Linked DNA regions of Homo sapiens. The protein of the gene in region 1 interacts with the protein of each later gene in a pairwise test. Each region holds a gene or a part of one and is shown in the gene's direction. Other genes may lie near its edges. The genes, in order: CYP4F22 and MSMO1.

What was found.
Region 2: the proteins of CYP4F22 (region 1) and MSMO1 interact in binary tests that used the Homo sapiens proteins (3 or more experiments, as listed by UniProt).

What each region holds. Positions count from the first base shown.
Region 1 is NC_000019.10:15,538,216-15,554,332, forward strand, and holds the end of CYP4F22 (ultra-long-chain fatty acid omega-hydroxylase), read left to right. Parts: intron 1-2,234; coding exon 2,235-2,502; intron 2,503-5,755; coding exon 5,756-5,822; intron 5,823-5,934; coding exon 5,935-6,064; intron 6,065-9,892; coding exon 9,893-10,026; intron 10,027-10,922; coding exon 10,923-10,987; intron 10,988-12,458; coding exon 12,459-12,541; intron 12,542-13,078; coding exon 13,079-13,256; 3' UTR 13,257-14,102; downstream 14,103-16,117. UniProt on the Homo sapiens protein: A cytochrome P450 monooxygenase involved in epidermal ceramide biosynthesis. Hydroxylates the terminal carbon (omega-hydroxylation) of ultra-long-chain fatty acyls (C28-C36) prior to ceramide synthesis.
Region 2 is NC_000004.12:165,323,007-165,339,123, forward strand, and holds the start of MSMO1 (methylsterol monooxygenase 1), read left to right. Parts: upstream 1-4,662; 5' UTR 4,663-4,758; exon of another isoform or gene 4,759-4,940; intron 4,941-10,333; 5' UTR 10,334-10,364; coding exon 10,365-10,619; intron 10,620-14,782; coding exon 14,783-14,931; intron 14,932-15,645; coding exon 15,646-15,772; intron 15,773-16,117. UniProt on the Homo sapiens protein: Catalyzes the three-step monooxygenation required for the demethylation of 4,4-dimethyl and 4alpha-methylsterols, which can be subsequently metabolized to cholesterol.

The sequences.
Region 1 (16,117 bases):
ATTAAATGAGATAATGTGAATCAATGGCTTGGTATAAAGTAGGTGCTTAGTAAATGTTAGTATTTTTTCATTCCACTAGGAAGAGTATGTGGTCTTTGGACAGTGTCCTCCCCACTTTCTGAGGCTCAGTTTCCTTGTTTGTAAAAAAAGGATGACAATCTCTTACTTTCTGAGAGATGCTTTAAGGATAAAATGATGCAGCACTGCCCTGGCACATAGTTGATGCTCAGAGAATATTTGTTGAGTAAATGAATCAAATAACCAATGCCTTGCTTCATTAATTCATTCATTCATCAAATATTCATTGTGCACCTACTACGTGCCTGGCACCATGATATTGCTGCTGAGAACAGGGTGGTGAACAACAGACAGTCACAGTTCTGTGAAGTTTATAGTCTAAGTGGGGACATAAGGAATAAGGGAGATAATTAATGCAAAACTTGCAACACATAGTAGGTCCTCAGTAACAAGCTAATGACTTCGTTACTCTAGGCATTATAGGGGCACGTTCCAGTTGGATAAGGCAGAGATTGTCTTAGAAATTAAATAATTAATTCATCCAAGAAATATTTACTGAGTGCCTAGTAAGTGCCAACCCTGAACTAGGTGCTGGGAACACCATATTCAACAAGAAAGACAAGATGTTGCTTTTCTAGAGCTTCCATTTTAGTAGGAAGACAGGTAATAACCATGAACAAGTAAACAAACAAGAAAACGACAGACTGCAATAAGTGCATGAAAACAAGCCCACTTCAGGACTGAGGACAGCTCCCTTCAAGCCTGCTTCACCTGTTAGTTTTTAAAAAATAATGGCTTTGTTGAGACACAATTCACATACTATACCATTTACTCATTTAAAGAATACACCTGAACTGCTTTTAGTATATTCAGAGTTGTGCAACCATTACTATAATCAATTTTAGAATATTTTCATCAATCCTCCCCCACCCCAAGAAACTTCATACACTTTAGCAACCCGTGCACTTCCCTTTCTCCTTCAAGTCTAGGCAATCACTAATCTATTTTCTATCTCTATAGATTTGCCTGTTATGGATATTTCACACGGATGGAATCATACAGACTTTTGTGTCTGGCTTGTTTCACCCAGCATAATGTTTTAAAGGCTCATCCATATTGTGGCATGTATCAGTTATGTATTTCTTTTCATTGATGAATAATGTTCCATTTACCACATAATACCACATTTTGTTTATCCAGTCACCCATCGATGGACACTGTTTCCACTTTTCGACCTTTATGAATAATGCTGCTATTAACATTCATGCACAAAGTTTTGTGTGAACATACATTTTTAATTCTTTTGGCTATATACCTAGGAGCAGAATTGCTGGGTCATACGGTAATTCCATTTTAAACATTTTGAGGAACTGCTAAACTTTATTTCAGTGGGTTTCAACATGGTATGAAGTGGTTGTACCATTTTGCTCTCCCAACCAGTGATGTATGAGAGCTCCAGTTTTTCCACATACTCACTAACACTTGCTTTTTTTTGTTGTTGTTGTTTTGTTTGCTTTTTAGAGATAGGATATTGCTCTGTTGCTCAGGCTGGAGTGCAGCCCAACACTTGTTATTATAAGTTTTGATTTTAGTCACCTTAGTGGGGTGAAGTAGTATCTCATTGTGGTTTTGATTTGCATTTCTCTGGTGACCAGTGCTGTTAAGTATCTTTTCACATTCTCATTGGAAATTTCTGTCTTCTTTGGAGAAATGCCTATTCATATCCATTGCCCATTTTAAAATAAGTTTTAAGAATTCTTTATTTATTTTAGGTACCAATCCCTTATCAGATAGACAATTTGCAAATATTTTCTCCCATGCTGAGGAGTGTAACCATTTAGTTTTAGTGATGCTACAATGACTATGCCTATGTTGAAAGTCTTTATCCCTCTTTGGGCCTGTTCAAAAATATACCCGAGACTGGGTGTGGTGGCTCAGACCTGTAACCCAGCACTTTGGGAGGCCAAGGCTGGAGGATCACTTGAGCTCACGAGTTCAAGGCTGCAGTGAGCTATGATTGTGCCACTGTACTGCAGCCTAGGTGACAGAGCAAGACCCTATCTAAAAAAATAAATAAATGAATTTAAAAATAGAGTTAATATAGGGCTTCTCTTTGTTATCTATTCAATGGGGACAGGAGGCTTATCTTAGCCAAGCCAGGGCTGTGCTATGCTAGGGGAAGGGGCTACACTCATGGATCCCCTTCTCCTTGGCAGGAAGATGAGTGATTATATCTCCGCTATCATTGAACTGAGCGCTCTGTCTGTCCGGCGCCAGTATCGCTTGCACCACTACCTCGACTTCATTTACTACCGCTCGGCGGATGGGCGGAGGTTCCGGCAGGCCTGTGACATGGTGCACCACTTCACCACTGAAGTCATCCAGGAACGGCGGCGGGCACTGCGTCAGCAGGGGGCCGAGGCCTGGCTTAAGGCCAAGCAGGGGAAGACCTTGGACTTTATTGATGTGCTGCTCCTGGCCAGGGTGAGGCTGGGCCCCCTGGAATTGCTGGCCTCCCGAGGGCTGGCCTCCCGAGGAATTGCATGTAAAATGATAAGTGTTAAAACTCCATTAGGCGTGGTGGCTCACACGTGTAATCCCAGCGCTTTGGGAGGCCAAGGCGGGAGGATCGCTTGAGCCCTGGAATTGGAGATCAGCCTGGGCAACACAGGGAGACCCTGTCTCTACAAAAAACAAATAAGTTGGGTGTGGTGCCGCATGCCTATGGTCCCAGCTACTTGGGAGGCTGAAGCAGGAGTCTGGCTTGAGCCCAGGAGTTGGAAGCTGCAGTGAGCTATGATGGTGCCACTGCACTCCAGCCTGGGCAACAGAAGCGAGACTCTGTCTCAAAACAAAACAAAACAATACACATGCTCAAAACAAAAAGAAATTCACATGGGTCTGGGATGGGGTCAGAACATGTAAGACTTACTGCGTGAGTTTTCTTGGGCTGCTATTACAAAGTACCACAAACTAAATGGCCTAAACATCAGCCATTTATTCTCTCACAGTTCTGGAAGCTAGAAGTCCAAGATCAAGGTATCTGCAGGGCTGGTTTCTTCTAAGGCCCATGAAGGATGAATCTGTTCCAGGCCTTGCTCCCTGGCTTGCAGAAGGCTGTCTTCTCCCTATGTCTGCGGATCATCTTCCCTCTGTGCCTGTCTCTGTCTTCGTCTCTTTGTATAAGGATTAGGGCCCTGCCCTAATGAGTTCATTTTGTCTTGATTACTTCTGCAAAGACCTCTCTCCAAACACGGTCATAGCCTGAGGTACTGGAAGTTAGGACTTATGAATTCTAGCGGAGGGGGGGTGGGCAGGGAACCATTCAGCTCATCACAATTGCAAAAATGAAATACATGACCTTGGGCTGGGCGTGGTGGCTCATACCTGTAATCCCAGCACTCTGGGAGGCCAAGGCAGGTGGATCACTTGAGGTCAGGAATTCGAGACCAGCCTGACCAACATGGAGAAACCCCATCTCTACTAAAAATACAAAATTAGCCGGGCGTGGTGGCACACACCTGTAATCCCAGCTACTCGGGAGGTTGAGGCAAAAGAATCACTTGAACCTGGGAGGCGGAGGTTGCGGTGAGCTGAGATCATGCCATTGCACTCAAGTGAAACTCCGTCTCAAAAAAAAAAAAAAAAAAGAAAAAAAAGAAATACATGACCTTGAAGAGATGAGACACTTCTATGGTCACTCATTGGTGTGTCTGTGGACCTTTTGGGTTCTGGATTCAAATAGTCCTGGATTCCAGTCCTGGCTCTGTCGCTTAGTGGATGTTTGACCTTAGTCATTGACTCTTCTTCCCAAGCCTCAGTTTCTCCATTTATACCATGGTGATCATAAAACCTGATCACAAGGTTGTCAGGCATCCAGTGGGATGCTTGGTGTTGGAGGCTGCTCAAGAAATATGAACTTCCTTCTTCTCCTCACTGTTGACTTTCTGTCCCTCTTTACATCTTTCTTTTCTTTTTTCTTGTTTTTTAAAAATGTAATTTAAAGTTCCAGGATAAGCCGGGCGCAGTGGCTCACCCCTGTAATCCCAGCACTTTGGGAAGCTGAGGTGGGAGGATCACCTGAGGTCAGGAGTTCAAGACGAGCCTGGCCAACATATTGAAACACCGTCTCTACTAAAAATAAAAAAAAAATATTAGCCGGGCGTGGTGGCATGCATCTGTAATCCCAGCTCCTCTGGAGGCTGAGGCAGGAGAATCGCTTGAACCCTGGAGGCAGAGGTTGTAGTGAGCCAAGATTGCGCCACTGCACTCCAATCTGGCAACAAGAGAGAAACTCCATCTCAAAAAATTTTTTTTTAAATTAAATGGAAAGTTCAAGGATACGTGTGTAGGGCGTGCAGGTTTGTTACGTAGGTAAACATGTGCCATGGTGGTTTACTGCACCTATCAACTCATCACCTAGGTATTAAGCCCTGCATGCATTTGCTATTTATCCTGATATTCTCCCTCCTCCTGCCACCCTGATAGGCCCCCCAAGTGTGTGTTGTTTCCCCCCTGTGTCCGTGTGTTTTCATTGTTCAGCTCCCACTTATAAGTGGGAACATGTGGTGTTTGGTTTTCTGTTCCTGCCTTAGGTTGCTAAGGATGATGGCTTCCAGCTCCATTCAGGTCCCTGCAAAGGACATAATCTTGTTCCTTTTTATGGCTGCATAATATTGCATGGTATATATGTACCACATTTTCTTTATCCAGTCTTTCATTGATGGGCATTTGGGTTGATTCCATGTCTTTGTTATTGTCAATAGTGCTGCAATGAACATATGTGTGCGTGTATCTTTATAATAGAATAATTTATATTCCTTTGGTTGTATACCCGGTAATGGGATTGCTGGGTCAAGTGGTATTTCTGGTTCTAGGTCTTTGAGGAATTGCCACATTGTCTTCCACAATGGTTGAACTAATTTACGTTCCCATCAACCTTGTAAAAGCGTTCCTATTTCTCCACAGCCTCACCAGCATCTCTCACTCAGGGTCTTGCTCTGTCACACAGGCTGGGGTGCAGTGATGCGGTCATGGTTCACTGCAGCCTTGATCTCCTGGGCTTAATCCTCCTGCCTCAGCTTCACCAGTAGCTGGGACTACAGGCATGCATCACCACACCTGGCTGATTTTTTTTTTGTAGAAATGGGGTCTTACCATGTTGCCCAGGCTGGTCTTGAACGCCTAGGCTCAAGTGATCCTCCCACCTTAGCTGCCCAAAGTGTTGGGATTATAGGTGTGAGCCACCATGCTGGGCACTTTCCATCTTTATTAGACAAGTTGCATACTTCCATCTTCCTGGACTAGTTCCCCCCACAGCTTGGCTTAAGAGAGAGAGGGGAGCCAGGCGTGGTAGCTCATGTCTGTAATCCCAGCACTTTGGGAGGATGAGGCAGGTAGATCACTTGAGGCCACGAGTTCGAGACCGGCCTGGCCAATATGGCAAAATTGCATCTCTACTAAAAATACAAAAATTAGCTTGGAGTGGTGGCATGTGCCTGTAATCCCAGCTATTCAGGAGGCTGAGGCACGAGAATCACTTGAACCTGACAGTCGGAGGCTGCAGTTAGCCGAGATTGTGCCACCGCACTCCAGCCTGGGTGATAGAGCGAGACTCCATCTCAGAAAAAAAAAAAAAAAAAAAGATGGGGGCGGGGAGATATCTGAGTTTTGAGGAGCCCCTAGGATGCGGAGGGTGGGATGAAGTGGGCTGAGCACCCTCTACTGCCCATTCCAGGATGAAGATGGAAAGGAACTGTCAGACGAGGATATCCGAGCCGAAGCAGACACCTTCATGTTTGAGGGTGAGGATGTGGGGTGAGGCTGGAGGAGGGCAGGAAGGGACATCATTGTCTGTAGACAGCATCTCTGCTTTCTTCAGGCAGCCTCCATTCAGATACCCTCATCTCCCTGCAGGTCACGACACAACATCCAGTGGGATCTCTTGGATGCTGTTCAATTTGGCAAAGTATCCGGAATACCAGGAGAAATGCCGAGAAGAGATTCAGGAAGTCATGAAAGGCCGGGAGCTGGAGGAGCTGGAGTGGTGAGTGTGGGGTCAGGGGAATGGAGGGGGCAGGTTGAGGCCAGAGCCTTGGGTGTAAGCCTCTGCTCTCCCACTTACTGATTGTGTGACCTCAGACAAGCCACTTTAGCTTCCTGAATTGCAATTTCTTCAGCTACAAAATGGGGGTGGTTATAGTGCCTATGCCCACCTCATAATGCAGAAGTTCTCAAAGTGTCCTAGTCAGCAATTATTGCAATGATGCTGCATAATGAACAGCTCCCAAACTTAGTGGTTTACAGCAAGCATTTGTTTCTTGCTTTTGTATGCACACATTTCTTGCTCTTGTCTGCTCATTACTCTAATTGCTGTTGGACTTGGCTGAGTGGAGTGGAGTTGCTTCAAAACTAAGAGCTGGGTTCAGATCTGCTTCATATACTCCCTTTCTGTTCTCTTTGGACCAGAGGCTACCCTGGGTCGTATTCTTCTCAAGGCAGATTCCAGAAGCACAAAAAGCCATGAAATTTAAAAGCTTTGCTTGGGCCGGGTGGGGTGGCTCACGCCTGTAATCCCAGCATTTTGGGAGGCCGAGGTGGGTGGATCACCTGAGATCAGGAGTTCGAGATCAACCTGGCCAACATGGTGAAACCCCATCTCTACTAAAAATACAAAAATTAGCCAGGTACGGTCATGGGTGCCTGTAATCCCCCCTACTCGGGAGGCTGAGACAGGAGAATCACTTGAACCTGGGAGGTGGAGTTTGCAGTGAGCTGAGATTGCACCACTGCACTCCAGCCTGGGCTACAAGAGTGAAACTCTGTCCCCACCCCCCCACAAAAAAAGATAAAATAAGTAAATAAATAAAATAAAAAAAAAAAACAAAAGCTGTGCTTGCACTAGAAGATTGCATTGGCTAAAACAAGTCACGTGACCAAGCCCAGCATGAATGGGGCAGGACATATACTCCACTCACCTGAGCAGAAGGCACTGAAGAATCATATGACAAAGGGTACAGGTATATAATTCTAATTCAGGGAGGAAGTGGAGAATCAGAACACATACCCAGTCTCTACCAGATTCATGCTATGTAGAGCTGATTCTGGGTGATGAAAAGAAAACACAGCATTAGGCTGGGCGTGGTGGCTCATGCCTGTAATTCCAGCACTTTGGGAGGCCGAGGGGGGTGGATTGCTTGAGCTGAGGTGTTTGAGACCAGCCTGGGCAACATGACGAAACCCTGTCTCTACAAAAAAATACAAAAATTAGCTGGGTGGGGTGGCGCATGCCTATAGTCCCAGCTACTTGGGAGGCTGAGGTGGGAGGACTGCTTGAACCCAGGAGGTGGAGGCTGTGGTGAGTCAAGATTACGCCACTGCACTCCAGCCTGGGTGACAGAGTGAGACCCTGTCTCAAAAAAAAAAAAAAAAAAAAAAAGAAAAGAAAAGAAAAGAAAAGAAGAAAAACACAGCCGCAACATTAAATAGCATCAACTCACACAGTGAGGAGGTTCCTTTCGGTTCTATTTCAACCTTTTGCCTTATGGCCTCAGGGGGACATGCTCAGTGGGGTGCTACTGTGTCCTGAACACTTTGCTAATCTTCCTTTTAAACAAGTGGAGAAGATGTCTCAGGTTGAGAGAGTTGGGTGGGAGTTGGTGTGTAGACACAATTTAATAACACACTACTGCTTTCACAGTGGTGTTTGTATGGATGAATACCTTTATGCCAGGGATGCTGTTTGCCCTTTATAGCAACATGAAGTTTATTTTTTTTTAAGACACAGGCTGGAGTGCAGTGGCATAATCATAGCTCACTGCAGCCTCAAACTCCTGGGCTCAGGCAATCTTCCTGCCTCAGCCTCCTGAGTAGGTGGGACTATAGGAGTGTGCCACCACAACTGGCTAATTTTTAACATTTTTTTAAGAGATGGGGACTTGCTGTGTTGCCCAGGCTGCTCTCAAATCCCTGAGTGCAAGCAGTCCTCTTACTTTGGCCTCCCAAAGTGCTGGGATTATAGGTGTGAGCCACTGTGCCCAGCCATAAAGTTTCTTTGAAAGAGAACCTGGGCCAGGTGCAGTGGCTCATGCCTGTAATCCCAGCACTTTGGGAGGCTAAGGCGGGTGGATCACTTGAGGCCAGAAATTCAAGACCAACCTGGGCAACATGGTGAAACCCTGTCTCTACTAAAAATACAAAAATTAGCTGGGCGTATTGGTGTGTGCCTGTAATCCCAGCTGCTTGAGAAGCTGAGGCGTGAGAATTGCTTGAACCTGGGAAGCAGAGGTTGCAGTGAGCTGAGATTGTGCCACTGCACTCCTGCCTGGATGAAACAGCAAGACGCCATCAAAAAAGAAAGAGAACCTGCTAATTTAAAGAAACTAATCTAATCTAGAACATGAACCAAGAGTTATCATTAGCCCAATTTTGGGCCCTAAAGTCCAAGGGAAAAAATATTAAGTAAATGATATTATAAGGAGATAATGCACTTTTCTTTTCTTTCTTTTTTCTTTTTTTCTTTCTTTCTTTTTTTGAGATAGGCTCTCACACTGTGGCCCAGGCTGGAGTACAGTGGCATGATCATAGCTCACTACAGCCTCCTGAGTAGCTGGGACCACAGGTGTGTGCCATCATGCCCAGCTAATTTTTTAACTTTTGGTAGAGATGGGGTCTCTCTTTGTTGCCCAGGCTGGTCACGAACTCCTGGGCTCAAGTTATCCACTTGCTTCGGCCTCCCAAAGTGCTGGGATTACAGGTATGAGCCACCATGCCTGGCCTGCACCAGTTTTTTTTTTTTTTTTTTTTTTAAGACAAGAGTCTCACTCTGTCACCCAGGCTAGAGTGTAGTGGTGCAATCTCATCTCACTGCAACCTCCGCCTTCCGGGTTCAAGCAATTCTCTTGCCTCGGCCTCCCAAGTAGCTGAGACTACAGGTGCACGCCACCACACCCAGCTAATTTTTGTGTTTTTTAGTAAAGATGGGGTTTTGCTATGTTGGCCAGACTGATCTTGAACTCCTGACCTCAGACGATCGCCCATCTCAGCCTCTGCAAGTGCTGGGATTACAGGCGAGAGCCACCACACCTGTCCTGCAGCAGTTTTTTAAGTACAGAAATGGACCATATAAACTGGCATATTGCTGTTGCCGTGAGTCCCCTTGGCTGTCCTGGCACCTCGCCTAGGTGCCCCTGGACCTCCACATAATTCATCAATTAAAGGCTTAATGCTGGGCCCAGCAGAGGGCCCAGTGCTAGTGCTGTTCTGAGCGGTTGGTGCTCAGATACTTTGCATCCTAAGTATTAGTACTGGCCGGGCACTGTGGCTCACGTTTGTAATCCCAGCACTTTGGGAGGCCGAGGTGGGTGGATTGCCTGAGGTCAGGCGTTTGAGACCAGCCTGGCCAACATGGAGAAACCCTGTCTCTACTAAAAATACAAAAATTAGCCGGGTGTGGGTGCGCATGCCTGTAATCCCAGCTACTTGGGAGGCTGAGGCAAGAAAATTGCTTGAACCTGCAAGGCTGAGGTTGCAGTGACCCGAGATGCGCCACTATGTTCTAGCCTGGGCAACAAGAGCGAAACTCGGTCTTAAAAAAAAAAAAGAAAGAAAAAGGAAAAGAAAAAACAAAAAAACCACTAAATATTAGTACTTCCCACCTGTGCATGAGACAACTGCAAATGGCAGAAATTGGGGCAAGTCTAAAATCCTGGACTGGTTTCTTGCCCAGCTGCCCCTGAGAGAGAGAGAGAGAGAGAGAGAGAGGGAGAGAGTGTGTGTGTGTGTGTGTGTGTGTGTGTGTGTGTGTGTGTGTGTGTGTTTTGGGGAGGTGGTGCCATGGTGGCTCGGCCTCTAGTTATATCTCCATTCTCCCCAGGGACGATCTGACTCAGCTGCCCTTTACAACTATGTGCATTAAGGAGAGCCTGCGCCAGTACCCACCTGTCACTCTTGTCTCTCGCCAATGCACGGAGGACATCAAGCTCCCAGATGGGCGCATCATCCCCAAAGGTGCCTACCATGTTCCGCCTGCTGCTGGTGCACTGCCTCCAATGATGTAGCTGCTCTATTGTCCACAGGGGCCTGGCTATGCCTGCCCCAGGTGCACTATCCCTGCAGATGGGATAGCTCTCTGTGTGCCTGTTGCTTCTGGGGTGTTGGAGAAAACCCAGTTGTGTGTGCAGGGAGATAGAGCCGGGTGAGTCCAGGTGGAAAGGAAGGAGGCAGTGTCGCAGGGATGGGCCTGTGAGGGTGCAGTTGGGGAGGGTCAGTTTCATTCAGTTGCCAGTTACTCCCTGGAGACCAAGCCCTGCCTTGGTTGATACAGGGGACCCTGGCTCAGGTTTTGAGTATTGCCCTTTCTGGGGGAGATACAGCAGGGTGCAGACATTCCCAGGCGTATGGAATCAGGAATGGGCTAAAGGGAGAGACAGGGGCTGGAGTAGCTCCAATATGGAGAGGAATGCAGGGAGGGCTGCCTGGAGGAGGGAATGTGGGAGGTGAGGCTTGGAGTGTGGAAGTGAAAGAGTGAGCATGTTTATGGAGTAGAGCCTCAGGATGCAGATTTTGAAAGGCCTTGAGTGCCAGGTGATGGCGCTTGAACTCAATCCTGGGGGCAGCAGGGAGCCAAGGTAGGTGTTTGAGCTGAAGAGGAGCAATGTCAGATCTGCGAGTAAGAAAGATCCCTATGTGGCCAGCTTGGCAGCCAGAAAGAAGATGATAGGTTCCTCTTAGGGAAAGGTGGGAAGAGTGGATGGGGCAGCAGAATTTTTTAGAGAAGGATGGACAGAAGGTGGTGGCAGATGGCTCATGGGAACATCATGGCTCTAGGGAGACCCAAGTTGGGGGATGTTTCTGGAGGAGGCCCTGGCTCCCCTTGGCCCCACTGATCCCATCTTTCCCCACAGGAATCATCTGCTTGGTCAGCATCTATGGAACCCACCACAACCCCACAGTGTGGCCTGACTCCAAGGTGAGTGCCTGCCCCACTCCTCCCTGCCCTCAGGTCCTCCCCTCCCCTGCGCCCCAGGGAGCCAGCGAGCAGGGCTGGTTGCAGGGCCTGAGTGCGCACACCCCTCCCCACTCCGCATTTAGCCATTTATTCACCCACTGATTGTTAATTCATTAGGGCAGAAAATATTTATTGAGCACCTACTGTGTGCCAGAGTGTGTGCTGGGCTCTGAAAATAGAGGATGATACTGTCTTTGCCTTTACAGGGCTCACAGTGAAGTTTTGGGGAAGACAATAAGCAAATAAATAAGATTTTGGGTATTGATACATGCACAAAAGAAAGAAAAACTGGGCCAGTTCCGGTTTACAGGTGCAGTGGCTCACACTTGTAATCCCAGCACTTTGAGAGGCTAAGGTGGGAGAATCGCTTGGGCCCAGGAGTTTGAGACCAGCCTGGGCAACACAGCGAGACCCCCCATCTCTACCAAAAAGGAAAAAGTTGGCCCAATGTGGTGGCTTGTGTCTGTAATCCCAGTGCTTTGGGAGACCAAGATGGGAAGATTGTTTGAGGCCAGAAGTTCCAGCTCAGCCCAGCCTGGGCAACACAGTGAGACCCCATTTCTAAAAAAAAAAAAAGTTAGCCAGCCATGGTGATGCACATCTGCAGTGCCAGCCACTCGGGAGGCTGAGGCAGGAGGATCGCTTGGGCCCAGCAGTTTGAGGCTGCAATGAGCTATGGTTATTTATTTATTTATTTATTTGAGACTGGGTCTTGCTCTGTTGCCCAAGCTGGAGCGTGTGCAGTGGTGCGATCTTGGCTCACTGCAACTTCTACCTCCTGGGTTCAAGAGATTCTCCTGCCTCAGCTTTCTGAGTAGTTGGGATTACAGGTGTGTGCCACCATGCCTGGCTAATTTTTTTGTATTTTTAGTAGAGATGGGGTTTCACCATGTTGGCCAGGCTGGTCTTGAACTCCTGAGCTCAGATGATCCATCTGCCTTGGCCTCCCAAAGTGCTGGGATTACAAGCGTGAGCCACCGCGCCCAGCCTGCAATGAGCTATGATCGCGCTTCTGCACTCCAGCCTGAGTGAGACTCTGACTCTAACAAACAAACAAACAAACAAAGACAGACAAACAAACAAAAAAAAAGAAAAACAGGTGGAGGGGGCACTTTAGCTCGAGTGGTTATGAAAGGCCTTGCCGAGGAGATGTTTGAGCTGAGAACTTAGGGGATGAAGGATCAGGGAGAAGCCTGTTCTAGGCAGAGGAAACAGCAAGTGCAAAGGCCCTGAGGTGGAATCTCACTGGTGCGTGTGAACAACAGAAGGAGGCAGGTGTGGCTGCATTGCAGGAAGTGCAAGGTGGAATGGAAGAGGTGGCCCTGGGGTGCTCCCCATCCATCTTTACTGACCCCCAGAGGCTCAGGGAAGGGGGCCAGGCTGGGATGTCTGGGGCAGCCCCCAGACTCATCTCCAGGCTGTTCCTCCCTAGGTGTACAACCCCTACCGCTTTGACCCGGACAACCCACAGCAGCGCTCTCCACTGGCCTATGTGCCCTTCTCTGCAGGACCCAGGTAACCCCTCTATTTCCCCTAGTCCAAGCCAGCTGTGTAGGAACAGAGGCAGGGAAAGATCAGGAATGTGCCTCTCAGGAGCAGAGATCAGATGGCACCCAGGCGTCCTTTCTGAAGACCCAGCACCCTCTCCCCAATGCGCCAGGAGGCCCCCAAATCAGACTCTGCAATAGCATCCTGGGTATTGAGCACCAACGGTGTGTCAGGCCCTGAGTTCTGGGCTCCCACGCTCCCATTGGCTCTATGATGCCTTTGTCCCCGTTTTTACAGATGAAGGAACTGAGACTCAGAGGGGGCGCTGTGTATCCAGGACACACAGCTAGTAAGAGGCTGTACTGGGATTCAGACACTCAACCCCAAGGTCACATTAATTGAGCGATCCGTGGGGTCTCACTTTAACCCTCACCCAGCGTGGGGTTTCACTTTAACCCTCAGCCAGCCCAGGATGCTTGCTTCATTTTCAAAGGAGGCATGTGACCCCCGGGGACCAGTGCTCACACAGAAGCTGGGCCTGAGCCCTGTCCCCTCTTCCTCCAGGAATTGCATCGGACAGAGCTTCGCCATGGCCGAGTTGCGCGTGGTTGTGGCACTAACACTGCTACGTTTCCGCCTGAGCGTGGACCGAACGCGCAAGGTGCGGCGGAAGCCGGAGCTCATACTGCGCACGGAGAACGGGCTCTGGCTCAAGGTGGAGCCGCTGCCTCCGCGGGCCTGAGCGTGGGCGCGCCCCTGCGGCTCCCGAGGGTCCAGGCCCCGCCCCCAAAGGACCAGGACTCGCCCCAAAGATCCCGAGGGCATAGGCCACCCCCCTCGAAGTTCAGGTTCAGCTCCTGGATGACCAGGCACCGCTGTTGAGCAGCCTGGTGGTACTGGCCACGCCCCTCAAGGCAAGGCTCCTCCCCTTAGGGGGCCTGATCCCGCCCCTTGAGGCTTAGGTCCCGCCCCCTGACTTCTCGCACCTGTCCTGTTTGAGGGACCAGGGTCGACCCTGCCCCCTTGGGCTCAGGCCCCGCCCCCAGGATCCTACGGATTGAGGTCCTCAGGCCACGCCCCTGCAGATCCAGGTCTCCAGGCCTTGCCCACTGAGCCTTCAGAGGACCTAAGACCCACCTATGACTCAGGGCCCACCACACCCCACCCCCCCCCAACTGGCTGAACCCCTGGCAGGCTTCCAAACTGAGGAAAGCTGGAGCCTGACGTCAGAGCTTTTAACTCGGACATCACCCTCCTGAGGCCCTCAGCTCATACGGGCAGACTGCTCAGGCGTGAGGCTGGATCGTAGGGTTCGAGGCTGCTTGCTTTTGTTGTTGTTTTGTAAACTCAGACCCTTGTAAGCCCCTTCCTTCCTCCCTTGCCCAAAGATCCTTTGCTGAGTGTTCTGTTTTTGCAGAATAAAAGCAAAGGATGCAGACTTACCCCACCCTCCACCCCTAGCTCAGCCAGATCCTTACACGTGGAGCCCCCAGCATGGGAATGAGGGGCTCTGCAACTGAGCGAAGCTGCGGGCTAGGAGGCTGGAAAGCCATTTATCCTAGGACATAAACTCAGATTTTGGGGGTCAGTTTGTGTGTTCATTTATTTCATCAACAGATCACATATTGTTTGCTGGCACTGCTTCAGAACCACAGGCAGGCCCTGTTTTCTGCCTTCTTAGGGGGTGGGGGACAGATGTTGAACAAATAATTCCACGTGTAAAGGTTTATTTACAACCCAGGACAGGTGCTCCAAAGGAGAGGCCCCGGGTGCTGGATGAATATAGCAGAGGGATGGGGATGGGTCAGGGAGAGCTTCTCCGATGCTGGAATGGAAGTTGAGTGGGTGACAAGGGGAGGGAAGAGTATTCCAGGCAGAAGGAACAACATCTGAGAATACCCTGAGCTGAGGGAGAACAGAGTGTGTTTGAGGAACTCACCAGGGGCCAGGTGGTTGGATCTGGGAAGTGGGGGCAGAATGAAGGAAGGGGCCAAATGCACAGGCTTTATGCTGAGGGCAATAGGGAGCCATGGAGAGTGTGTGAGCGGGATCAGGACAGGACATGGCCAGATCTAGGGCTGGCAGGGAGGTGACTTGCGGGGTTGGGACCCTGGGAAAGAGGGAAGCTGAGGTCCAGACAACAGGAAGGGCCAGGATTGGGGTGACTATCTAGCAGTGGGGGCTGAGGGGAGGGAGGTGGTAAGGGTGATGCTCAGGTATTTGGCTGAGGGAACTTGATGGTAGAGTAGTCCCTGATATGGGAATATAAAAGATGGGGGCCAGGCGTGATGGCTTACACCTGTAATCCCAGCACTTTGGGAGGCTGAGGCTGGAGGATTGCTTGAGACCAGGAGTTAGAGACCAGCCAGGGCAACACAGTGAGACTCCATTTCTACAAAAAATAAAAAATTAGCCAGGTGTGATGGTGCACATCTGTAGTCCCAGCTACTTGGGAGGCTGAGGCAGGAGGATCACTTGAGCTGAGGAGTTTGAGGCTGCAGTGAGCTATGATCACACCACTGCACTCCAGCTGGGGCAACAGAGCAAGACCCTGTTCCAAAAACAAACAAACAAAAAAAGGTGGGCAATGACAATGTCAGCAATTTTATACATATAAAATGCTACACTAAAGGAAAATGATACTGCTATTATACCACATATATAATATATATATATGCACTATATATGCCATCATTATATATATAGTGGTGGTATAATAGTGGTATCATCTTCCTTTTAGGTAGCATTTGCCTGTAGACTATTTCCATCTAGGTCACTAGAGACAATAATATTAATTCAACAGGCCGGGTGCGGTGGCTCATGCCTGTAATCCCAGCACTTTGGGAGGCTGAGACAGGTGGATCACCTGAGGTTAGGAGTTTGAGACCAGCCTGGCCAACATGGTGAAACCCTGTCTCTACTAAAAAATACAAAAATTAGCCACGTTTGATGGCGGGTGCCTGTAATCCCAGCTACTCAGTAGGCTGAGGCAGGAGAATCGCTTGAACCTGGGAGGTGGAGGTTGCAGTGAGCCGAGATTGTGCCACTGCACTCCAGCCTGGGCGACAGAGTGAGATTCTGTCTAAAAAAAAAATTAATTTACCAAATATTTCTTGGGCAATCTGCCGTGAGACAGGCACTGTTTGAGCCCTAGGTTCCCAGAGTTTACCTCTAGGGAGGAGATATGATAAATGATAAATAAGTAAAGAAAGAAGTAAATTCACACAGGGCCTTTTCTGTGACTTTTTTTGTGACAGAAATGGGGAGTTCTGAGCAGAGGAGGGACAAGCTTTGTCATACGAACTTTTTTTTTTTTTTTTTTGAGACAGGGTCATGCTTTGTTGCTCAGGCTGGTGTGCAGGGGTGCAACCATAGCTCACTGCAGCCTTGGCCTCCTTGGGCTCAAACGATCCTCCTGCCTCAGCCTCCTGAGTAGCTGGGACCACAGGCACACACCACCATGCCCAGCTAAGCTTTGTATTTGTTATCGAGACGGGGGTCTTACCATGTTGCCCAGGCTGGTCTTGAACTCCTGGTCTCAAGCGATCCTCCCACCTCAGCCTCCCAAAGTGCTGGAATTACAGGTGTGAGCCACCATGCCAG
Region 2 (16,117 bases), on another chromosome or scaffold:
TTAACAGAAGAGAGAACTTTCTGTGAGTAGCCATGTGTGTTGATCAGATACAGTTTTTCTGAGATCTTCAATTAATCTCACTTTAAAAATGACCAAAACATGTCTTTCTTGAATTAACTTTGAATAAAAGTTTGTATATTATTTGTTTCACAGTGTTCTTGATTTTTATCTATTTAGTTTTGTGTTAAAGTTTCCTGTTAGTTTTTTTGCTCTTTTATAGTTTGCATTTTGTCACTTCACAAATCTGCATTTTTAATTTATTGCCAAAGTGACCTCACCTACAAGACAAAACTATTAAATGAATAACCGAAGTCAATAAAAATGGTTCTGTTTCCAAGGAAAAGTAACTTCAACTATCAAGGAGAGGTCTGTCAAGGATTGGTAAAATTTAAACCTTTTATATTTTTGTGTCCCTGATATGGGTAGGGCATGAGATAAGGATAAAACAAGTAGTATTAGACCAAAAGGAAAGTCAAAGAAAAAAAATACCTACTCCAAAGTAACTGAGAAATAAACTGTGGTTTTGATACCAAATAAAAGGAATTGAGGAAATAGGAATAGTGGAGTCAGGTAGGCAGCTGAGGTGCTGGACACAGCAGAGGAAGGGAAGAGGGGGAAGGAGGAGGTGATGGGATATTGTGACCATTCCTCAGGAATTAAAAAAGTTGGCATGAGCTGTTGCTAGACCAGTTGATAATCAAGAGGAAAGATTGCTATGATAACATTTCGATTCAAATTTAAACATGGAACCACATTTAATACTTAGTTGAACTTTCCATTATAAATGAATTTAATCAGAAAAAGCCTATGCTCAGTTGATGAAAACATGAATTTCTGCCTTACAGCACATCATTGTCAACAAACATATTGAAGGTCTAATGAACTTGGAGTAGTCAGCTGTTTCTGACAGAGGCACCAAGAAAAATGTATGAGGTCTCTGTCTGTCCTGATCACTTCCAAACACTAATGTTCTATATGAATCTATCAATTAAAGATTTATCTGAAAAATCTTAAAGCTTTTCTTAAAATATAATCTCAGCCTATTAAAGTAACAAAGACTTAACTACATAGCATGTCAAATACCTCTATCTTTACTTTCTTAATCTTTGAAGCTTTAATAGCTATACTATAATTGCCAAGGTTTGTCAGTAGCTGGATTCATAGCTATGATTTCAGAGACTTTAGACATACCTCCTTCCCCCATGCCAACCTTTGTCTTTCCAGTTTGAAATTTTTTTAAAGGCATATGGAAGTGTTCTCAGCCTGTTCCATTGTTGTATGAAAAATAAGAAGGCAGAGAGGTGTCTTAGAAATCCTGCCAAGGAAGCAGCCCCACGTTTGAGCAGAGTTCAAGGCTGGATCCACATACCTGCGTTGTGAAGCAACTCGTCTGCCTGCTTTGTTGGGATCTATGCCTCCTTGGCTGAAAGCAGTGATGACTGTGGTTAAGGCGGAAGGTGTATTTACTGTCAGAAGACTATCAGTTCTTTCCCTGTTTCTTATGGAGTCTGGTGTATGATTCCTGGTATTTATTATCTCTTTATCGTTCCTTACAGCATAAGAACCCAGGTATTTGTAATCCTAACTGCTGTTGCGTTATGAGACTTAACTTTATGAGGTGTAAAAGGGTCACATGAAATTACATAGCAGTGTGCTGACACCATCTTGGTTTAGTTTTGTCTTAAGCACACTGCCTCCTACTGACTTCCATGGCTGCCAGTGTCTCATTTTGGAGAGGAGGCTACGCTGGAGAATGGAACTATATTTTGAGTCAAGATTCTGGGGTTCTAATCCTGGCTTTAAGGAAAAAAGCCATGTGGTATATTGGAAAGCCCATGGGCATAGAAACAAAAGGGTTCTGGGTTTGCAGCTCCCTCTATCAATTGCTAGCTGTGACTTTCAACACATTACTTAACCTCTAATCCTTATTTTGTTTTTAAAATGGCAATAGGAGTGTCTGTGTCACAAGGTTGTTGCGTTTGAAAGAAATGATGCATGTTAATATGCTTGAAATCCAGCGGGCCCTCAATAAATTACAGCTATTGTTCCCTGAGCCCCCTGTTAATCTTCATTGTAGGGAAATAAGTGAGTTGAGCTGCTGCATCAGCATTTTTTTCCAGCTCTAAGCCTTTAAGGTTTAAAATAATCTGACCCCTCCATACACCTACACCTGCTCTGATTTAGAAAATGTAATACTGTGGTAGAATTCCAAATCAGAAATAATTGCTGACATTTACTGATCATATCTTGTATGCCAGAGACTGTGCAAAGGGCTTTACATACGTTATCTCATGTAATCATCATAAATAACTCTTCGAGGTGTAGGTATTATTATTTCACAGAAGTACCAGATAAGACAGAGAAGTAACTTATCCACTGCTAATAAAATGCCAAGCCTAGTAAGTGTGGCCCGATAGTGTGTGCTATTGATGCTCACCTGATAGAGGATGGCAGGTTTGGGCAGAGAGAAAAGTTGGGTGGCAGTGCAGTCATCACACAACCAATAGGATGGGGAGCTCTGGAGCTGGGATGGCCAAGCAAAGTAGCCCTACATTGGTTTAGGGGATTTTATACCCGTTTCAACCAGTTACTTGACTAGCTGTTGCCTAGAAAGGGGGTATACCCGTGGGGAGAGGTGCTTCTCTTTGGCAGTACTCAGCAGCTGGAGGAATGCCTGCTTAGGTCTTGAAGAGGGGGATCTGGGTGGTGTGCCACAGCATCCACTACAGGACCAACAGATTCATATGCCCACTGCACAGTATACACTGAGACAGCAGGGTTTGCAGAAGAGAAAGAGTTTAGTGATGGCAGGGTGCCGAGAGGAGATGGGAGGAAACCCTCAAATTCATCTCTCTGAGGAGTTCTGTGCTGGGGCTTTTAAGGGGATCCTGGAGGGCAATGGGCTGGAAAATTAGGGTCCTCGATTGGCTGGGGTAAGGAGGAATGAAACCATCAGGATGTGGGAACTGCATTCTTTGGTGAGTCAGCTCCTTGTCAGACCAGCTGAGTCAGTAGTTTCATCAGTACGAAGGACCTGAAAGGTTATCTCAAAGCACAAACTTAACGTTTCATAATGTTCAAGTTGTTGTCTATAGAGCAGTTAGGGGAAACTATAACCTTGTAACAGAGTCTACATGATTCTGAAGCAATAGGCAAACAATTATGAGGAAGGGGTCAGACAGCAAGCTGACCTAATTATTAATCCTCAGTGTGCTGCAAGCTTGGTTTAATTTCGTTCCCCCCACCCCTTTTTCCCAGATTAACTTCATAAAGTATATAGGCATGGTTTCAGACACCACTGTAAAGGCATCCTAAAGACAGGGCTGACTCTGACAACCAAGGGACAGATCCCATTTCTTTTCATTTGACGTGACCGCTGTCATGATACTTTACAAAGAATGTGTGTGCCAAACATGAGGGATAGACGAATAAGTACAGGTCACACTGAATCTAAAAAAGACACTTTTCAAGAGGGAACTTCCTCAAGGAGATAGTACCTGAATTGATGGGGCGGCATGGAGATGGCTGATTATTCCAGGCAGAAGGGCCAGTTTGAGCAAAAGCATGGAGGAATGAAACAATAGTATTCTGTTTTCAGAAGCTGTATATATTTGACACAATATACACATAATCAAAACATGTGTACGCCGTAAACACAATTTTTGTCAATTATACCTTAATAAAGAAGGAGGAAAAAGGGCCTTCACTAGCCCAAATGATGCCCCTGTGCGGTTTTTTCTTTAAAGGCACCTCTTCCGTTAAGTGAAAGTTTTAGTATATTATCACATCTGTACAGTTTTATTATTAAACCCCAGTACACAATATTTTAATGTTGAGAGATGGTGTAAACTGAGCTTTAGAGCTGCAAAGACCTGCGTCAAGCCCCCGCCCCCGCCCCCGCCCCCGGGCACTCATCGTCCAGCACAACAATTGCAACAACACCTGGGCGTTCTCTGCCCATGTAGCGAGGTCAAGGTCCTGGGAGCCGAACTCTCCCTTGATGTTCAATCTTTTTAAATCTTTCCCAGCCTTTATTTCTCATCTGCAAAATGACGATAATCGCATTTGAAATTCTCCGTTTTCAAAATGCAGGAATTTATTAAAGGATACGTAGGCTGGGGAAACAAGGGAGACGAAAGATCTAAATCTAAATGGTAGACCAGAAAAAGGAAGGCAAGGGTGTCTGGAAACACAAAACAGTCAACATAGATTTTAAGACTCATCTATACTCTCTTCTTCCCGGGTTTGGGAACTGCGGTTGCTACACAGGTCACATTTGAAATAAAAGTCCTGGGACGGCGGCCGGCGCGACACTCTCCCCCGCACAGCGCAGGCTCTCACTGGGAATCTGCCGGGACCGCAGTTGCCAAGGCGACTCCGCGCTGCAGGGCGAGGCGGCCATCCGTCTGTGCCCGCCCCCTCACGCCGTGGCGCGCTCTCACGCTTCCCCGCCTCCGGGCGCTCCGCGGTGCCGACCATTGGCTGGCTCTGCAGGTCTCACTATCCTCACTCCATCCGCGGAGCCAATGGCTGGGACCGCCAGGAGCTCGTTCGCGCGAGTCACACGATGTCGGCAACTGCACAGACCAATCACCGCGCCGAGAAGGCGGGGCGGGAGCTCTCGCAGGCCAATAACGACAGGACGGGCCGCCTGGCCCACCCGGCTCCACCCCCAAGCCAGGCGAGGCAGGTTCCGAGGTTGGAACACCTGGCGAGTCCTCGGTGTCGGTGGCCGGCAGTCATCTCGCGGCCGTTCAGGTGAGGGGGTTGGAGGAGTGGCTCATGAGCGAGGAAGGGGGAGCAGGCGGGCTCCCACCCGGTGCTCCGTGAGATCGAGGGGAGCGGGTTCTGGGTGCGGATGCACGCGCTGGGCGGGACGCTGGCAGTGGTACCCGAGACGGGGCGGAAGGAGACTGGAGTGAAGGTGGGCCTAGGCTAAGGTACGTGCTAGAAAGGATGAAAACGGAGTGAAATTCTTAAGTGATGGAACTAGGCTAGGGCATGTTTCTTGCCCTTTAAAATGTGTTGTCTTCGGGAGACAGGACGTAGAAGATAGTTGCAGCACAGGGTGATAGGCTGGCGAAAGTTATACAAAAGCAGGAACCACTAGAAGGAGGTAAGATGTAGTGTGCTTTGGGAGTAGTGGGGTTGGGAAGGGCGTCCGAGAGGAGGTTACTGAAGGATGACTAGGAGTTGAATGGGAGGACATCACCTGTAAGGGAACGATATTTCCGTGGGCAGAGAGGAATGAAGCAGTAGCAACCATGAGTGATCAGATACTGCAAAAATGTGAAGTGTAGGATGGCGAGAATGTAAGAAATGAAGAGTGAAGAAGTCTGGAAGGGCCTCGTGTGCATCAATCACAGCGGGGCTTGATCTTTATGCTTAGGGCAAGCACTCCCTTGAACTTTGAGTGTTTTAAGGAGGTTATCTCTGATGTTTAAATTTATATAGATCGTGGCATTGCATCTTAGAAATAAGGTTTAGGAAGGGCAAGCTTGGAGGCAGGGCAAGTCCAGAAAATGAAGGAGCTGGTGAAATCCGTGTTAAAGTGCCAAAGGACAGAGACTGGCTGACAGCTAAACTTCAAGGTTTCTGAGAATCCACAAATAACTAAATTTATCTAGTCAACCTGTTCCAGAACAGGCTTCCAGTCATTTAGGTTGCCCAAGAATGAGTAAAGGAAAAGGAAATTCAATTTTCCAAGACCTTGTTTCCCCTCTCCTCTTTAATTCCTTGTTCGGTTAGCAACAGTATATCCATTCCCTCGCTCCTTTGTGAAAAGTAAATTCCTGAATGTTAACTAAACCAAGTGTTTCTAAATTGGGTAAGAGTTTGAAGACTTAAGGCAGCAGAATGGGAGAGACTTAAAACGTTATGTCTGAGAATTAGGCATTAAAGGAGGCCTAGTATTTGGGCGGGGGTTGTGAGGAGCACATACTGAACCTTTGGACCTGTTGAGTGAGTTCATGTGCCTCTGAACTCTCTGACTGGATATGACCAGTAAACTTGGATAATTAGATCCTGGAGTTTAGGGGAGAGGGCTAGAGATAGAGATGATGGATGTCAGCATATTTTTAAAACAGAAAATAGTTAAGATCACCCAAGACAATCTGGAATCGTTAGAAGGGAGTAAGGAAGGCATTATTGGGAAACTTTCCAGCTTCAATTCTCATATTTTTTCTAATCTCCTGGTTGAGTCTTTGGAGTTGCTGTTCTCTCTATGCAAAACCCCTCCCTTGACCCTCTCTCCCTCACTCTATTTTTTAATTTGTCACCTCCTTCTCCTGTTCTAGGTCTCAGTTTAGATAGCACCTTTCTCTAGAAGTTCATAGCACTGTGTATTCCCCCCTTTATTGTTCTTATCACATAATTTTTGATGGTTTGGACACTAGTTGTTATTCCTCACTAAATTTTATGTTTTATGAACTCAGGGGTAAGGGCACCAGCTAGCACAATGAATGCACAATACTTGTCAGAGTGAATGCATTTAAGTTCCAAGAACCAAGGAAAGGCGGTATTTCAAGAAGAGAAGTATCAAATCTTCCAGATTAGTCAAATAAACTCCAAAAAAAAAAAAAAAGGTTTATTGGATTTGGCAGCTGGAGATCCATAGCGATTTTTTTTTTTTTTTTTTTTTTTTTTTGAGACGGAGTCTCACTCTGTCGCCCAGGCTGGAATGCAGTGTCGTGATCTCTGCTCGCTGCAACCTCAGCCTCCCGGGTTCAAGCAATTCTCCTGCCTCAGCCTCCCCAGTAGGTGGAATTACAGGCATACGCCACCACACCCGGCTAATTTTTTTGTATTTTTTTGGTGGAGATGTTTCACCATATTGGCCAGACTGGTCTGGAACTCCTGACCTTGTGATCCGCCCACCTCAGCCTCCCAAAGTGCTGGGATTACCAGCGTAAGCCACCACACCCAGCCTCCTTAGTGATTTTAGTAAGAGTAAGTTCAGTGCAGTGATGACAATAGAATGCAGATTGCAGTTGCTAGAATATAAACAGGAAATAAGAAGATAAAGACAACTCGTGGAATACCTTTTCATAGAGCTTAGGTAAACTGTAGGAATTATTCTCCTTGTACTCTAATACTTATTATGGGTTTTATTTATAATTATAGTGTAATATAATGGATGAGTGCATGGGCTTCCCCACTTAGCATTTGTTAAGCATTAACTTAACATTAAGCATTAGACTTTGGGCAAGTTGCTTAATCTTTCTAAACCTCAGTTATTTTATCTATAAAATGGTGATAAAATAATACCTACCTCACGAAGGTGTGGTAAGGATTAAAGTGAAAATGTAGAGAGCAGGTAGCATGCTTTGAACACAGTTCTTGGCACAGAAAGTGCCCAATAATTGTTAGTTTCTTGTAGCTATTACATGCCAGGTCCTGTGCTAACTAAGCGCTTTATATGCATTGTCTCTTGGACTCATTGGAAGACCTACTGTTTTAATTTTTGCTGCTGATAAAACTGCATCACAGAGAGGTTACCTAATTTGCCCAAGGTCACAGGACAGGACTAGTAAGTGGTCTTGGTTCATTATTGTCAAATTTACTAATCACCTTGAGAAAAATTAAGATTGGATGGTTGCCTTATTTTACAACTTAGAAGATGATTGAAGACATTTTGGTGCAGGTGGGGAGCCAGATTGCAAGTAGCTCAGTGAGTTGTGTGGGTGAGTTAAGCAACCTTTTTTATTCTTTTTTTTTGAGACGGAGTTTTGCTGTTGGTGCCCAGGCTAGAGTGCAGTCACAGCTTACTGAAACCTCCACCTCCTCATTTCAAGCGATTCACCTGAACTCCTGACCTTAGGTGATCTGCCCGCATCAGCCTCCCCAAGGTGCTGGGATTACAGGCGTGAGCCACCATGCCCAGCTGAGTTAAGCAATCTTTATGTAGAGCTCTCCTTTGAGAAAGAAGTTGGTTGGTTCAAAGAAAGATAAATGGGACAGTGGCTTGGAAGAGGTAATGGAGGCTAGGAAGGTGTTTATCAACAAAGGAAGATGTAGGCTGGGCGCAGTGGCTCACACCTATAATCCCCACACTTTGGGAGGCTGAGATGGGAGGATTACTTGAGCCTAGGAGTTTAAGACCAGTCTGGGCAACATAGGGTGACCCCTGTCTCCACAAAAAATTAAAAAAATTAGCCAGGCGTGGTGGCATGTGCCTGTGGTCCCAGCTACGAGGGGCTGAGGTGGGAGGATTGCTTGAGCCTGGGAGGTCGAGGCTGCAATGAGCCATAATTGTGCCACTGCACTCCAGCTTGGGTGACAGAGTGAGACCCTGTCTCAAAAAAAAAGAAAAAAAAAAAGAAAAGACGTGAATGTGTTTTTAGACCTGAAGGAATGGATTCCATGAAGGGAGAAGGATGAAAGATGGGAAAGGATAAGTGATGGACAAGTTCTTGAGGTAAGATAAGAACACAGGAAGACTAGTCAGTCTTAGAGGAAAGAATGAATGAGCAAAGAAATTTTAAGGCCTGTAATGACACAGGATGGAACACTATAGTCACTGTGGTGTAAGTCATTTGAGATGAGTAGGACAGAAGGAGGACGGCCTGAAGTGAATTCAGATGCCTGGAGGAGTTGGCTAGGTTCTCAATATTCCTTCTGTAGAATGGGATAAAAGGTCAGTTTGAGAAGTGTTGGGGAAGGGGACTTTTAAAGCACTATTTAGAATGCTTCTGAGGCTTTAAAATACTCATTTTTAAAATGGTCCAAAAAATTCATAAATTAGAAGCAGCAGTGGTGAACATTTTTAGGAAAGTGACCCTTGAGAAGTTTATTTTTTGGTTAGTGACCTATTGAGCTTATTTATTAGGTAAGTAGAACATGCTCATTTAAAAAGTTTAAATTGTGCAAAAGACATATGTCAGATTTTTTTTTCTGTCTTCCATAACACTATTTCCTACCCCGCCGCGCTCTGTCTTCCGTAACACTCTCCCCTACCCCGTCGCCACTCTGTCTTCCATAACACTGTCCCCTACTCCACCACACTGTCTCCTACCCCGCCGAGCTGTCTTCCATAACACTCTCCCCTACCCCGCCACGCTGTCTTCATTAACACTATCTCCTGCCCTGCCACACAACTCTGTTTTCCTAGAAGTCACCAGTGTGAATTTTTCCCTTTATCCATATGTACATTTTTTGTTTCTGTGTGTCTGTGTATATACATATGCATAAAAGTGCATAGATAAAATACATATCCTTTTCAAAAAATCTTAAGTGGGGCTCTTGCTATGCATACTGTTCTGTAACTTGTTACTTGGATTAACACTGTATCTTAGACATCTTTCTATGTAGAGCGTATAGATCTTCCCTGTTCTTTTAAATGGCTGTATAATTGTCTATGGAAGGACTTAATTTATTTAACCCATACCTTGTTGATGGCTTATTTGTGTTTTGCTTTTATTTTTTCCTCTTTGTTTTTGCTGCTACAAGCAATGCTTCCTTCCATCTTAGCGGATCTGTCTTTGTACCCTTGAATGAGAAAGTTGCTGGATCAAAGGATGTATTCATTTTGAATTAGGTGTTGCTAATTTTTCCTCCAATGATACACTGATGTATCCCCCCTGCCCACAGTGTGTGGTCATGCCTGTTCTCTCACCCTCTTACCAGTACTGGACATTAATAAGCTTTTAAAGATTTGCTACTCAGGCTAAAAGTGTCTCTTTGTTTTAGGGTGCATTTCCTCATTTAATGAAGTGAAGATTCTTCCTTGTTTAGTGACCATTTGCCTTTATTTTTCTGTGAACTGCTTGTGAATGGCATTTGTCGTTCTTCTGTTGTCTTTTTAGTCTTTTTTCTAAAGCACACTTTGTAGCCCTTTGTTGTAAAATGTTGGAAATATTTTTCCCAGTTTGTCATTTAATCTTTGACTTTGTCTTTCTATTCCCCAGTAGGAGGTACTTAATTTTTATATACTCATATTTGGCAGGCTTTTTCTTTATAGGTTCTTTTGGCTTTAAGTGATACTTTTAAACCCAGCTATTGCTCATTTAAATTAGAACCTTTTCCATGAGAACCACACTGACGATTTCTTTAAATATAGCTTGAAAAAATTTTTCCCCTATTGTTCTTTTAGCTATTGTTCTTGAAAATAATGTGTTTTTTAAAGGAATATCTACAAATAGAAATGGTGATGATATCCAGCAAATGTTTTAAAATGGTGTAAAACCATTTGTACTCCTTTAGTAATTTTTTGGTAAAAAATTTATACTCCTTTAGTAATTATCATTTTTAAAATGATCAGAGGATGCATTTTTTAACTGTTTTATTTTTTGAAAGCTCATTGTTTAACTTATTATATATGTATTCATTTCTACAGAATTATAAGGCTGTCTGCAGAGATTTGAAAAATGGCAACAAATGAAAGTGTCAGCATCTTTAGTTCAGCATCCTTGGCTGTGGAATATGTAGATTCACTTTTACCTGAGAATCCTCTGCAAGAACCATTTAAAAATGCTTGGAACTATATGTTGAATAATTATACAAAGTTCCAGATTGCAACATGGGGATCCCTTATAGTTCATGAAGCCCTTTATTTCTTATTCTGTTTACCTGGATTTTTATTTCAATTTATACCTTATATGAAAAAATACAAAATTCAAAAGGTGAGTATAAGGGACTAGAAATAGAATATTATCATTAATGTTGCTGAATATTTTAAAAGTACATAGGGCTTTGTTTTGTGAGGCTAAAGCAGTGATATCCAATAGAAATATGAAGCCACGTATGTAATTTTAAATTTTCTAGTAGAATACATAGAAAAGGTAAAAAGAAATAAGGAAATTAATTTCATAATGTGTATCATTTAGCTCAATAAATGTAAACTATCGCTGGGTGCAGGGTCCATGCCTGTAATTCCAGCACTTTGGGAGGCCAAGGCAGGAGGATTGCTTGAGGCCAGGAGTTCAAGACCATCCTGGGAAACATAGCAAGACCCTGTCTCTACAAAAAAGATACAAAAATACCCAGGCATGGTGATGTAAGTCCTAGCTACTTATGAGGCTGAAGCAGAAAGATTGCAGCACTATACTCTAGCATAGGCGACAGAGTGAGACCTTGTCTCAAAAAAAATAAGAAATAAATGTAAATTATTATTTCAATCAGTAATCAAATTCTAAAAAATACTTAATGAGATATTTAATAAGTCTTTGCAATTCCGTGTGTATTTTACATTAATTTTAGTCTATCTCAATTTAGACTAGCCATGTTTAAAGTGTTTGGAAGCCACATGTTACTAGTTGCTCCTGAATTGAGCAACACAGTCCTAGGTCATTATTGATAACATTTCAAGAATACTTTGTTAAATTGGGCTTTAAGTAGATGTGATGGTTATCTAACTTAAGTTTATGAATTTTAATGTTTAAGCTAGCTGGAAAGGAAAGGTGTGGTGATTTGCGCATATTTTGCAGTTCACCCCAACTCTATGTTCCAGTAAATCTAAGGGACTGTTAATACACTACGACCTTGATCAGGGCTATTCAAGTTTTTTTTCCCTAAATATATGGTAGGTAGTTCTGCAGCATTCGTATCATCCCAAATAAGGAGGTGATGCTCCTCGTTTCTGGATATTTGCTTCATTGCACTAAATGTTGAGAGGTCGCTATGTACATGACAAGGTGAAATCTCATATGTAGCCTGTGAGCTTGACGTGAGAATTTGGAGTAGCTTATTAGAAAGATGAATTATTTGTTAGAATTTGTAAGCTGATGATAGTTTCTAGTGTTTGCTGTTTACTTTTCATAAAAAGTCATTCCAAACTAAAACTCAGGGGCACACAGTCTTGGTAGAAAGTAGACCATTGAGAGTATTCATCTATGGAAAGTAATTTACATTCACTTAGTACAATTGGCCCTCCATATCCATGGGTTGTTGTATCCATGGATCCAACCAACTGCAGATCAGAAATATTCAGGGGAAAAAAATTGTGTCTACACTGAACATGTACAGTCTTTTTTTTCCTTGTCATTATTCAAAATGACAACTATTTATAGAGCATTTGCATTTTATTAAGTATTATAAGTGCTGTAGAGATGATTTAAAGTATACGAGAGGATTCGTGTAGGTTATGTCAAATACTATGTCATTTTATATCAGGCACTTGAGCATCTTCAGATCTTGGTATTTGCAGAAAGTCCCAGAACCAATCCTCAAAAGATACCAAAGGACAACTGTATATATTTTGGATGGCAGTCTGTACACATTCTCTGTTATCATTCTGTTAGTTTCACAGCCTCTCCCAGAGTCTCACTTTAAGCAGGTATTAATATTAGTCCTCTCTGGGGATAATGCAGGGGTCAGATGACTGTGGACTCCAGGCCAAAGGAGAAAAGAGCAAAGGGTAAAGGCGAAGGAAATAAAAAATAGGAGGGCCAAAGGAGAGTACTCTGTGACCCTCAATTAAGGTCACAGAAGCTCCAAAGTGCTTTTTAGGAAAGCAGCTGCTTTGAAAGGCAGAATTAAGTTTGGACGTCTAAGTTCTAATGCACCTTTAGGGTGATTGTGGCTGCCGTGTTTCACCCAGTGATTTATTTATAGGGCTTATTCATTGTAATTCATTGTATGGCTGGCCAGGCAAAAGCATCCTTTTTCTCCTTCACTGCAGTTTGTAACTGACTCACTGGTTAGAAGTAGTAACCTTTGCAGAGAGACAAAGGACTTTCTCAGGCAAGGGTATATGAGCAGCTTTAAAATATAATGTGGCAAAGGAAAGAATAAGCTGTAGTCTAGTTGGTCAGAGCTAGTTGTTTATGAACAGATTGTAAGGCTGGATAATTTGACTTCAAGTCTGTACTCAGCAAGTCTTTATGTTTCATAACCATTAAAGTCCATGCTTTGAGCATTTTTGATAAAAAATGTGATTTTAAACCAGGACTAGTTTTCACAAGTTAAAGGAGTTTTAAAAGAAACCAAAATATTGGTACAAATTAATTACAGGTTTATGCATTTCGAAGGCAGATACCCTGATTAACATTGAGGGTATCAATTGTTTAAGATAAAATATTTGAGAATTATATTTAACATATGCAATAAATGTTTTTATTCTTAAAATTGTCGAAAAGAATAGAAGAAGTTGGTGGTGGTGATGAAATAGTACTAAAGACTTTCTGCTTTCAAACAGAACAGACAACTGGAGAGCTAATGCACATCCTTGCTAGTTAGGCGAAAATTTCACAGGAATGAAAAAGTAAAGCAGACTTTGCAGGATCTATTTCTTTAAAAAAAAAAAAAACATACATCTTAGTAATTCTCCAAAAATTTTCCTCAAAGATAAATGTACTAAAAATATTATTTCTGAAGTTTGTGGCCCTTGTAAAGGTATTCCTTTATATTAAGTACAGTTATGCATAAAGAAAGTAAAATATGGTAAACTTTCATATTGCACTAGGTATGAATTTGTATTGCTAACTGTCTTTGTAACTAATTTATGTATACTGTAAATGGTATAGCATGTGATTTTATTATAGTTGATTAACTTTGTAATTTCTGTAACTGCATCGATATCCCAGTCTACCTGGAAAATTAAGTCTATTAACCATAGTTGCTGTAGGAGACAGTACTATTGCCAACTGAAGCCTGAATCCTTCATTTATTTTGTCCCCAATTACAGAGTGGAGGTTTAGAGGAGTGGGGTTAGATAATGCTCAGATTAGAAATACAAAGGCAGCTGTCAGATCCTCCCATTTTATTGTTGAAGAAACTGAGTTGTAAACATCACAAGAGCTAGTTAACTGGTGAGTAGCAGCCCTGGTATTAGAGCACAAGTCTCTGGATTGATTCTTAGTTCAGTGCTTTTCCTATTTTTGTCAGGAAGATAACCCTTAAAGAATTTCAAGAACAGAGCTGGATCTGGAGACCTAGATTTTAGTTAGTCCAACTTCTGCTAATAACTGCGTGTGTGACCCTGCCCAAGCTGGTTGACCTCTTTGGGCTTCTGCTGATGCGCAGTAGTTCCCGTACTTTGGATATCGTGGTTCAATTAAAAGAGTTTTGTTGGCGGATACCTGAATTTTTCAGCAGTGACATTTAAAACAAAGCAATAACTGATATTTATTGTCACCATCGTTTTGTTAAGCCCAAAGCACTTTTTTAAGTGCAGTCCTATAAATTGAATACATTTAGTTAGTGTTTGTTTTGTTTTGCTTTGTTTTTTATAATGACTTGCTAAGCAAATGGGTATCCTGATGAGGTCTTAACGAACATCCCATGTTGATCTAACTTTTCTCATTTTGACTTGAATCTGTGAACTCCATAATCAGGACATATCTGTGTACTTCTCAACTCAGAGAGTTTATAATTCTGTCATTGGATTTGAACAAAAGTGCATTTATTTGTTGGAATGAATACCACTGAGTGCCTGGAAGCATCGACTTACTGTGTAAAAGGCTTCCAATGCTTCGTATACAACTTCTTCAATTGTGGACACCCAACAGTAATCTTAGCATATTATATTTCTTCTTCTCTGAAACTTCTGGTAAAAGAAGTGAAGTGAATGATCTGTGGCAGCAAAGACTGGAGAATTATTCATTCCATAGTGTTTCTTAGTTTGTTTGAGATCATCATGGCTAGGCGCATCTGTTAACAGTTTCTTCACCTGAAGTAGTGATAGTAGTTGTCAAGAATTTAGAAGGCAAAGATTCCTGAGTCTTAGTTATATAAAGTTAACATAACTGACGTAGAATTAAGGTCCAACATAAACAGAGAACAAATTAGGTCAAGTTAAACTCTGATAGCAGAGACTAATATTAGATATTGTGATTTTTCTTCGTAGGATAAGCCAGAGACATGGGAAAACCAATGGAAGTGTTTCAAAGTTCTTCTCTTTAATCACTTCTGTATCCAGCTGCCTTTGATTTGTGGAACCTATTATTTTACAGAGTATTTCAATATTCCTTATGATTGGGAAAGAATGCCAAGATGGTACGTAGATAAAAATTTGGCTTTTACACCCAATTGTGGCTTATTCAGTTAAGTTATACTTAATGTTTACCCGTTTTCTTAATTTTAGTTAATGTTTGTTCTAAACTTTGGAAGTAAATAAATAGTAGAAAAGTAAACCACAGTAAAATCTTAAAATGTTTCCATTTTTACATCTTTTAAATATTTTATTGGAAGGTGAGCTTCTAGTATCAGAAGTTTCCATAACGTCTTTTGTATGTTTATATACATGTATAAGTGCTTATGTTGACAAAAATATATTACATTTTAATTTTAAAATGAATGAAATATATGAGAATCATTTATGAGGTTTATAGAAATTGTGTTTACATGAACAAAAATATGTATGTGTATATATATATATATATATATATACACACATATATATATACACACACATATATATACTCATGCGTCACTTAACGGATATCTCTTGAGAAAAGTGTCATGAGGCAAGTTGTGTGAACATTGTAATGAAATGAAATTGGTCTAATGGGCAGTCTCTTTAACCTTATATCAAGTTATGTAGCTGTATCTGGTGGTTTTGAGAATTTATTTATGAATATATCCAATTAGGTCAACCTGGTAAGTGGGTGGGTGGTTTTATGTAATGTCTCAAGCAGTGATCCCAACTAAAAGTCTGGATAGTTTAAGTAAAAATTATTTCTTACACATTACAACATTTTTATCTTAAAGGTATTTTCTTTTGGCAAGATGCTTTGGTTGTGCAGTCATTGAAGATACTTGGCACTATTTTCTGCATAGACTCTTACACCACAAAAGAATATACAAGTATATTCATAAAGTTCATCATGAGTTTCAGGTATGTGAGAGTTATATTTAATTCTTTCTGTTAGAGGCAAAATGTCTATTTTAATTGCCTGAGCATTTTTCTAAAATTGTTGGTGACGTTTTTATTTTCTTTTCCTTTGGCATGATTATTAAGAACAATACACACACATACAAACAAGCCATTTCTACACATTGTTTTCATTATTTAAATTTCATGGTAAATTGAGATCTGAAAGAAAAATATTATATGAAAGTTCGGACTTCCATCCTTGTGGACAGTGCTACACTGGCACAGCTAGATCCTCACATTGCTAACTCCCACAAAAACAGTAACTTCTATGAGCACTGCTTTTTTTTTTTTTTTTTTTTTTTTTGA